3 linked regions of the Homo sapiens genome follow. The protein of the gene in region 3 interacts with the protein of the main gene of each other region in a biochemical or structural test. Each region holds a gene or a part of one and is shown on either strand. Other genes may lie near its edges.

Region 1 (3,651 bases), on a different chromosome or scaffold from region 3:
TCTTTTTTTTTTTTTTGAGACAGAGTTTCACTCTTGTTGTCCAGGCTGGAGTGCAATGGCGCGATCTGAGCCCACTGCAACCTCTGCCTCCCGGGTTCAAGCAATTCTCCTGCCTCAGCCTCCTGAGTAGCTGGGATTACAGGCATGTGCCACCACGCCCAGCTAATTTTGTATTTTTAGTAGAGACAGGGTTTCTCCATGTTGGTCAGGCTGGTCTCAAACTCCCAACCTCAGGTGATCTGCCTGTCTCAGCCTCCCAAAGTGCTGGGATTACAGGCGTGAGCCACTGCACCCAGCCACCATCTACCACTTTCTAGCTCCATGAGGGCTCTTCTCTCTGAATGCTGAGGGAAAGCTCTGGAGACAGGTAGTGGGGGTGGCTCCCCACAAGGCCATGTGGGATTACTGGCAGGCAGATAACCAGCAATGCCAAAGGGCAAGTGTACAGGGCCCCTCGGTGGCAGCAAACCCAGGAACATCAGGGGGTTGAAGGCAGCTCTGTCCACATTGGCCACCCTGGTGCACTGGACTCAGCACTGAAACCAATGGCTGAGTTGGCAGTGAAGTAGTTAATCTCATGGGATGTGGGGGCAGGCAAGTGACCTCAGACCTGATCAGTCTTCTCCTCTGTACAGTGGGAATAACAGCAGCTCCCACCCCACAGGGTGAGAACGAAGCATAGAAAATACTCAGCAAGGGGCTGGTCCCTTGTAGCCCTAGGTGGTGGTTAAAAGGACAAGTCCATAATGCAAGAATCTGTCAGGCTGCGCATTTAAGATTTGAGCACTCAGTGTATCTCCTATATTTGTTTTTGGGGTTTTTTTATTATTACTTTTTTTTTTGAGACAGGGCCTCACTCTGTCACCCAGCCTGCAGTGTAATGGCTCAGTCACGGCTCACTGCAGGCTCTATGTCCCGGGCTTGAACAATCCTCCCACCTCTGCCTCCTGAGTAGCTGGGACTACAGGTGCATACCACCACACCTGGCTAATGTTTTTATTTTTTGTAGAGGGTTTTGATGTTGTCCAGGCTGGTCTCGAATTCCTGTATTCAAGCAATCCCCCCAACTCGGCCTCCCAGAGTATTATTATTTTTTTGAGAAAGAGTCTCACTCTTGCTCAGGCTGGAGTGTAGTGGTGTGATCATAGCTCACTGCAACCTCAATCTCCTGGGCTTTAAGCAATCTTCCTGCCTCAGCCTCCTGCTTAGCTGAAACTGCGGGCATGGGCCACTATGCTCAGCTAATTTTTTAATTGTTTTATTTTTTGTAGAGATTGGGTCTTGCTATGTTGCCAAGGCTGGTCTCTAATTCCAGGCCTCAAGCGATCCTCCAACCTCGGCCTTCTAAAGCACTGGGATTACAGGCATGAGCCACCGTTCCCGGCTCTCCCTATGTGTGTGTGTGTGTGTGTGTATATATATATATATATATATATATATATATATATTTTTTTTTTTTTTTTTTTTTTTTTTTTTGAGACAGAGTCTCACTCTGTCGCCTAGGCTGGAGTGCAGTGGCATGATCTCAGCTCACTGTAACCTCTGCCTCCCAAGTTCAAGAGATTTTCCTGCCCCAGCCTCCCAAATAGCTGGGATTACAGGCATGCGCCACCGTGCCCAGCTAATTTTTGTATTTTTAGTAGAGACGGGGTTTCACCATGTTGGCCAGGCTGGTTTCAAACTCCTGACCTCAAGTGATCTGCCTGCCTCGGCCTCCCAAAGTGCTGGGATTATAGACGTGAGCCACCATGCCCGATCGCTCCCCATATTTTCTTTTCTTTTTTCTTTTTTTTTTCTTAGACGAGTCTTGCTCTGTCACCCAGGCTGGAGTGCAGTGGTGCAATCTCGGCTCACTGCAACCTCAGTCTCCCGGATTCAAGCAATTCTCCTGCCTCAGCCTCCCAGGTAGCTAGGATTACAGGCACACATCACCACCACGCCTGGCTAATTTTTTTGTTTTGTTTTGGAGACAGAGTCTCGCCCCGTCGCCTAGGCTGGAGTGCAATGGCATGATCTCAGCTCACTGCAACTTCTGCCTCCCGGGTCGAAGCGATTCTCCTGCCACCATGCCCGGCTGATTTTTTTGTACTTTTAGTAGAAACGGGGTTTTACCATGTTGACCACGCTGGTCTTGAACTCCTGACCTCAAGTGATCTACCCGCCTTGGCCTCCCAAAGTGCTGGGATTATAGGTGTGACCCACCGTGCCTGGCCTCATTTTTTTATTTTTAGTAGAGATGGGGTTTCGCCATGTTGGCCAGGCTGGTCTCGAACTCCTGACCTTGTGATCCACCCACCTTGGCCTCCCAGAGTGCTGGGATTACAGACGTCAGCCACCTCACCCAGCCTCTCTCCCCATATTTTATACCTCAATTTAGAAAATAATAGGCTGGGCACGGTGGCTCATGCCTGTAATCCCAGCACTTTGGGAGGCCAAGGTGGGCAGATCACCTGAGGTCAGGAGTTCGAGACCAGCCTAGCCAACATGGCAAAACCCTGTCTCTACTAAACATACCAAAATTAGCTGGGCGTGGTGGCAGGTGTCTGTAATCCCAGCTACTCAGGAGGCTGAGGCAGGAGAATCATCTGAACCTGGGAGGCGGAGGTTGCAGTGAGCTGAGATTGTGCCACTGCACTCCAGCCTGGGCAACAAAGTGGGACTCCATCTCAAAAAAAAAAATAATAATAATTAAAAAAAATAAATTGGCCGGGCATGGTGGCTCACGCCTGTAATCCCAGCACTTTGGGAGGCCGAGGCGGGTGGATCACGAGGTCAGGAGATCGAGACCATCCTGGCTAACACGGTGAAACCCCGTCTCCACTAAAAAAAATACAAAAAATTCTCTGGGCGTGGTGGCAGGCGTCTGTAGTCCCAGCTACTCAGGAGGCTGAGGCAGGAGAATGGCGTGAGCACGGGAGGCGGAGCTTGCAGTGAGCGGAGATTGCGCCACTGCATTCCAGCCTGGGCGACAGAGGGAGACTCCGTCTCAATCAATCAATCAATCAATCAGTCAATAGATAGATAAATAAAAAATAATAATAGCTGACATTTATCTGGCACTATCATCACACGGGGCCACTGTTCAACTCCCTTTGTCAAGATGAACTCATTCATTCCTCAAAACCACCCCACTTTACAGATGAGGAAAACTGAGGCCTAGAGAGGTGAGATCAGTTACCCAAAGTCACAGAGTTCATCAGAGACCAGGCTGGGCTCTGAACTGGATCTTGACCCCAAGTCCTGGCCCTTAGCCACTTTGCTGGGCTGTGTCTCAGCAGAGACGAGAATGACTGTTTTCAAGCCTGTTTCCTGGGTTGTTAAGTGGAGACAATGGATACAAGGCAGGTTGCCGAGTGAGTCAGATGAGACAGTGTAGACAGCAGCCGGCACAGGGTCTGCCGGGGAAGTTTCAACATTAGCCAGGCGGTGATGTTCACCTTGGGATACCATGGGGCCGAGGAGTGGGCATCGGGCGAGACTTCCCTTGAACCAGCTCTGGAGCAATGCCCTTGCGATTGCCACGGAGAGGAACAGGGCCAGCTGGGGGCCAAGGTGACAGCTGAGCCCCCCAAGGGCACCTGCTACCCGAGCCCCCGAGGCCTCCATCCCAGGCCCGGCCTCCCCAGAGAAGGGGCCAGAGGAACAGCCAAA
Region 2 (2,554 bases), on a different chromosome or scaffold from region 3:
TTGGGATCTCTGTATCTGAGGTCCCTCTGTGCCCTTTTTTTGTTTTGTTTTTTGTTTGTTTGTTTGTTTGTTTGTTTGAGTTGGAGTCTCCCTCTGTTGCCCAGGCTGGAGTGCAGTCGCACGATCTCAGCTTACTGCAACCTCCGCCTCCTGGGTTTAAGCAATTTTCCTGTCTCAGCCTCCTGAGTCTCTGGGACTACAGGCGCCTGCCACAACGCCTGGCTAATTTTTGTATTTTTAGTAGAGACGGGGTTTCACCATATTGGTCAGGCTGGTCTCGAACTCCTGAACTCAGATGATCCACCCGCCTTGGCCTCCCAAAGTGCTGGGATTACAGGCGTGAGCCACCACGCCCAGCCTGTTTTTCTGAGACACGGTTTTGCTCTGTTGCTCAGGCTGGAGTGCAGTGGCACCATCTCGGCTCACTGCAGCCTTGTTCTCCTAGGCTCAAGCAGTCTGCCTCAGCCTCCCGAGGAGCTGGGACTACAGGCGTTGGCACCACACCCAGCTAATTTTTGTATTTTTTGTAGAGATGAGGTCTCGCTAGTTGCCAAGGCTGGTCTCAAACTCCTGGACTCAAGCGATCCTCCTGCCTCGGCCTCCCAAAATGCTGGGATTACAGGTGTGAGCCACTGTACCTGGCCTCCCTTTGTGCTCTTGATCTCAGGGTCTTCTCTGGGCTCTCCATGTACCAGTTACCTCCGATGGGTGAAGGTCGGGTTGGGGCATCCCCGGGGAGCACCACTTTTGCACTCGGCAGGCTGTTTCCCAGCGCTCCATCTGCTCCGTCCCACAGCAGACCGATCCATGAGCAGCTCCCTCTCAGCCTCTCAGCTCCACACGGTCAACATGCGGGACCCTCTGAACCGAGTCCTGGGTGAGTTCCCCACCCCTGCTGCCGAACCTGGGGCTAAGCTGGACGAGTCTCTCTTCTCATGGAGGCTGGGAGACCTTGTCAGCTGGAAGGGGCCTTGCGGTGCCCCTCCCTTCCCTCTCCATGCCCCTCATTGTTGGCTGTCCTGGCCCCCAGGCTCCTGTCTAGTTCCCCCTCCTCCCCTCCCCAATTGCCTTTTATATTTTCTCTCTCTGACACCCCATTTTGGGGACATGCTCAGCATGTGTTTCTTTTCCCTTTTCAGTCCCACCTTCTCCCAGAGTGTGACCTCACCCACTCTCATGGAACTCCCTCCTGTCACTCTCCCCCCACTCTCTACAGCCAACCTGTTCCTGCTCATCTCCTCCATCCTGGGGTCTCGCACCGCTGGCCCCCACACCCAGTTCGTGCAGTGGTTCATGGAGGAGTGTGTGGACTGCCTGGAGCAGGGTGGCCGTGGCAGCGTCCTGCAGTTCATGCCCTTCACCACCGTGAGTACCACCTTCCCGGCTCTCCTGCTGGTGCTGGGGCCTCGGGGCAGCCCTTAGAGCAGGGAGGGGCCTCCTTCCCCCTGGGACAGCACACCCACCACCAGCCGTCCCGCAAGCAGCATCTGTCTGTCCGTGGCAGGTGTCGGAACTGGTGAAGGTGTCAGCCATGTCCAGCCCCAAGGTGGTTCTGGCCATCACGGACCTCAGCCTGCCCCTGGGCCGCCAGGTGGCTGCTAAAGCCATTGCTGCACTCTGAGGGGCTTGGCATGGCCGCAGTGGGGGCTGGGGACTGGCGCAGCCCCAGGCGCCTCCAAGGGAAGCAGTGAGGAAAGATGAGGCATCGTGCCTCACATCCGCTCCACATGGTGCAAGAGCCTCTAGCGGCTTCCAGTTCCCCGCTCCTGACTCCTGACCTCCAGGATGTCTCCCGGTTTCTTCTTTCAAAATTTCCTCTCCATCTGCTGGCACCTGAGGAGAGTGAGCAGCCTGGACCACAAGCCCAGTGGTCACCCCTGTGTGCGCCCGCCCCAGCCCAGGAGTAGTCTTACCTCTGAGGAACTTTCTAGATGCAAAGTGTGTATGTGTGTGTGTGTGTGTGTGTGTGTGTGTTTGTGTGTATTTTGTAATATGTGAGGGAAATCTACCTTCGTTCATGTATAAATAAAGCTCCTCGTGGCTCCCTTTGTGACTGTGTGTGCTGTTGGTATTGGTGCCACCCGGGGCAGGGCATAGTGTCCTCTCCCTGGACTCCTGTGCTGTGGCCAGGGAACGGCTCACTCCTGTGGTGAGGAGGAGGAGGAAGAGGAGCAGAGGCGGCAGGGCTCAGGGTCCTATGTGGGCTTGCTCAGCTGGGGAAGGGCCAGGGGAAAGCAGCTTCCCTTCCTTGGAGCCAAGTTGGCTGGCCTGCTGCCCCCTCCCCCAAAGCCAGCTGTACCCTGAAAGGGGAGAGGCTTTGGCTCAGGGCCCCACAGTGCTGGGGCAGGGTGGCCTGCTCTGCTGTCTCCCGAACCTGGTCCAACACCACCCACACTCTGACTAGCCTGGGATTTGATCTGTTGCCTCCAAAAAAGGACTGGGGGATGGGAGGCGGGGGGATGAGGGGCCGGACCTTTCTTTAACCCTTCCTTGCCTGCCTCACACATCTCTGAGCCCCTAGATGGATGACTCCGAGCTGGCAGTGGGAACTTCT
Region 3 (3,651 bases):
CCCACTTTTTAGCCGTGTGACATTGACTGTGTTCGTTTACTTCTCTATGCTTTTGTTTCCTCACTTGTAAAATGGGGAACGTGATATTCCCCTAGGTTCGTTATGGGGATTCGGTGAATTCTCATATGTGTATGTGAAGTGCTTGGCACATAGTAAGCACTATATCAGTGTTCATGAAATAAAAACTTTTCCACATAGGAAAACTCTCGGAGCAGAGGACTTCCAGGCTCCTTGCACAAGCAGACACTGCCGCATCTCATTTCTGCCATCGCAGACTCCCAGGTGTCCCCAGGAGTGCAGCCCCCTCCACTTGGTGAATTATTCCTGGAGATGGGGATAATTGTTAAGCCACGTGGGTGCCCTTTCTCCCTCGGCCTCTCCTCCCCCGACCCCCGGGGAGAGCTGACCCCCACAGCTCCTGGCCATTCAGCAGGAGGCTGGGGAAGTAGCTCCCACCTCTGAGGCAGGATGGGCTGGGGGCTGTCAGCTCTATCATCTCCCCTCTGAGGTCAGCCGAGCACCTCTATTCCACAGATGAGGACACTGAGGCTTAGAGAGGAAAAGTGGCTTCCTGGTGTCATCGCACTGCTTCCCGTGAAGCAGAGCCATGGGTTTATGGTCCAGGCTTGCTGGGCTACTCCAGCCAGTGCCACACATGTTGAGGTGTCTGCTGGGCCTCTAATGAACAAGGAGCCACCCAGGGCTGCTGCTCCATTGGGGTGGGGAGAGGACGGGGGAGAAATATCCTTGGAGCCTTTCAGACACCAGCCCAGGATGTACTCAAAACACTTCAGAGGACAACTTCACATAACCCCAATTCAGACCACTTCAAACTCCAGTGAGGAATGTGGGGACCCTGCTTACAGATGCTCAGAGCCCTTGAGATGACCCATGGTGGGGCCAGGCCCTTTACCAGGGCTAAGCACCCAGGCACCTCATCTTATTTATCCTCTGGCCAGCCCTGGGAGACAGACACTATTATTTATTCCCATTTTATAGGTGAGGAAACTGAGGCTCAGAGAGGAAATTGCCTTGCCACATTCACACAGGTTGGAAGGATCTATGCCGGATTTGAGCCCAGATCTTTCTGGTTCCAGAGCTGGAGGTGGTCTTGTCTTTGGGACTCCCAGTTCAGGGGCTTGGCCTCTGCCTCAGGAGCACACAGTTCCTGGGCTTGGAAAAAGTGATGGGGGCGGGGAGCAGCCCAGGGCAGGGCAGTGGTCCTCGTGGGGCCACACAACACTCCACCTAGTGCAGCAGCAGCTTGTTTGCTATCTCTGGTGTGTTTTTGCCTTGCGCTCCTGGCGTGGTCCTCAGACAGGCCTAAAAGCCGTCCAGCCAGCAGGCCTGGGGGAATGAAGCCTGTTTTGTAGAAGATACAGAAGCCAGGATAGGGGAGGTGACATGCCCAAGGTCACACGTGACTGGACGGCAGGGGCAGGTGAGCACCTGCTGAGCTGACAACAAGCAGTGCCCAGCAGCTGCCTCCTCACCCTAGCTGAGCTGACCACAAGATTCCAGACCTCAGCTGGAGCTGCAGCCTCATACTGGCTGAGTGGCTCCAAGACACAGAAGGAAGCAGGGTGGCAGGCTGACCTCAGCCAGCTGCCTGCCCCCTCTCCTCTGAGGCTGGCCTGGGACCGATGGGGCTCTTCCCTCCAGGAGGGGTTTCCGGGCCTCCTCTTTTCCCCTACCTCCCTGTGGAGAACTGTCCACCCCTCCAGATATGCTCCAGTGATGTCGGAGGGGATGCCTCAATCTGGCGAGACGCAGCGGCAACAAAATCTGCTCAGAGACAAACGGACATGTTGCTGATATGAATCTCACTTGGTGAGTGGCAACAACAGAGTCCTGCATTTGGGTCTGTGCAGTCGTGCACACCAGAGACCGCTGACCCCCGCCCGCAGCACAGGGAACTGCATATATACACAGCAGGTACAAATATGGGCACACGACAAAACGCCCATACAGGATAAAGATGCAGGAAGAACAGGGCACTCCAACAGGTCCGCATGCACAAACGCATGTGCTCTATGACCCGCACACACAGCACACATGTACAAACATCCACAGACACAAGTACACACACATACACACTTACATACATAAGCAAGATCAACACGGGCAACTCCTAAGACACAAACACAGACCCACTCAATGAATACAAAGGAAAATAGACCCAGAACTCACACACAGAGACAAATGAACACACATATGCAAATGGGTTCCTGAAGGCATCACCCCACCCATACAACCTACATGGAAACTCACTATCACACACGAACGCACACACAACACACACAGTGCTGAGTTGGCTTCGTAGTTAGCAAAACTTCCCTGAGAGCTCCATTTTCCCTAAGTGCCAATTTCATTTCCCTAGGAAAGTCCCAAAGACACCGAGAAATGCGGTTATGTCTCCAACCACCATCTCCAGGGATACAACATCCCTTGCCGTCTCTCTGAACCTAGGCCCAAGGGGTTCACGAAGGGGCCGTGCTGGGCTGAATCGCTGGAGCTGGGCACCAAGGGGGAGCTCACCATCACGTCACTGTGCCAAGCGCCAAGCAGAGCCACTGTGAGGCAGTGAGGACTGGAAGGGCCTGGGAGGAATAGCCGGGATCGACTTTTGCTGGAAATTGGCCCTTGCAGGCCTCCCTTCACCCAGAATGCCTGTGATCACTGTGCCTGGGCACATGGGCTTCACTTGGCAACACCTGTGCTGGCCTGTAGGACCAACCTACCATTTTGTATCATTCTCCTCCCACCCCAAAGTTGAGTGCCAAAGATCTGCTCCTGGACCCAGGCACACCTGCCCCCACTGGCACACCTGGGCACATCTGCCCCCACCTACCATTGCCCATCGTCAACACCTGCACATTCTCAAATTCCAGGGTGGTGTAGGCTGGGTCCAGTGCAGCACTGTAGTCGGCCATGTCCATGTCGACGAGGGTTTTGGAGAGTCGCATTCTCCCTGCCTCCACGCCGCGGCCACCTGCCCTACCCTGGGCGCCCACCCCGAAGGCCCCCGCCCTCCGCCCTCCCACTGCCTCCTCCCAGTGCCCTCTCTGCCTTCCTTTCAAACCGTCCTCTGGGAAGATCTGCTGGGAGTCTTGGCCTAGCCTCTGTGAAGGGGTGGAGGCTCTGCCGGGGAGGGGTGGGGGTTAATGGTTAATCGGTCCCCCGCCGGTGGATAGGCTGGGCGGGGCTGCAGGGATTTGGCTGTTTGTTGGTTTCTGGCTGACACCCGGGGTGCTAATTACAACTGCTGGGGCCCTAACTCACCGATGTTCAGTTATCAATTGTACAAGGCAGGCATCATGACTCACGGGCACTCATTTGACCCTTGACTCACCCACCCCTCCAAGCCATTGTCACCCCAAGTCAGGCATTCTAACTGATACTATCAGGCACTGACAGCCTACCTCCGAGATCCCCTAATTCAATAACTTCCCAAATCATTGACTTCTACCCTCAATGCTTTTGCAGAGATAAGGCTGCCCCATGGCCCACGATTTAGAAACCTAAATCCCAGGCCCCAGATGCCAATCTTCTGGATCCTTGTTCTGGGAGCTCCCTTCCAGTTCCCCCGCAGTTTCCCGGTTCCCCTGGGAGCAGAATGGACTGGAAGTTTGGGAGGGCCAGATTCACCTC

What was found.
Region 1: of the proteins of HNF4A (region 3) and PRKACA, one has a biochemical effect on the other in vitro, tested with the Homo sapiens proteins (one study listed by BioGRID).
Region 2: the proteins of HNF4A (region 3) and MED24 form a complex in vitro, tested with the Homo sapiens proteins (one study listed by BioGRID).

What each region holds. Positions count from the first base shown.
Region 1 is NC_000019.10:14,107,763-14,111,413, reverse strand, and holds part of PRKACA (cAMP-dependent protein kinase catalytic subunit alpha), read left to right. Parts: intron 1-3,023; exon of another isoform or gene 3,024-3,429; coding exon of another isoform or gene 3,430-3,651.
Region 2 is NC_000017.11:40,018,596-40,021,149, reverse strand, and holds the end of MED24 (mediator of RNA polymerase II transcription subunit 24), read left to right. Parts: intron 1-796; coding exon 797-877; intron 878-1,216; coding exon 1,217-1,365; intron 1,366-1,504; coding exon 1,505-1,621; 3' UTR 1,622-2,046; downstream 2,047-2,554. UniProt on the Homo sapiens protein: Component of the Mediator complex, a coactivator involved in the regulated transcription of nearly all RNA polymerase II-dependent genes.
Region 3 is NC_000020.11:44,400,688-44,404,338, reverse strand, and holds part of HNF4A (hepatocyte nuclear factor 4-alpha), read right to left. Parts: exon of another isoform or gene 2,967-3,651; coding exon of another isoform or gene 2,852-2,966; intron 1,786-2,851; coding exon of another isoform or gene 1,695-1,785; intron 1-1,694. UniProt on the Homo sapiens protein: Transcriptional regulator which controls the expression of hepatic genes during the transition of endodermal cells to hepatic progenitor cells, facilitating the recruitment of RNA pol II to the promoters of target genes. Activates the transcription of CYP2C38.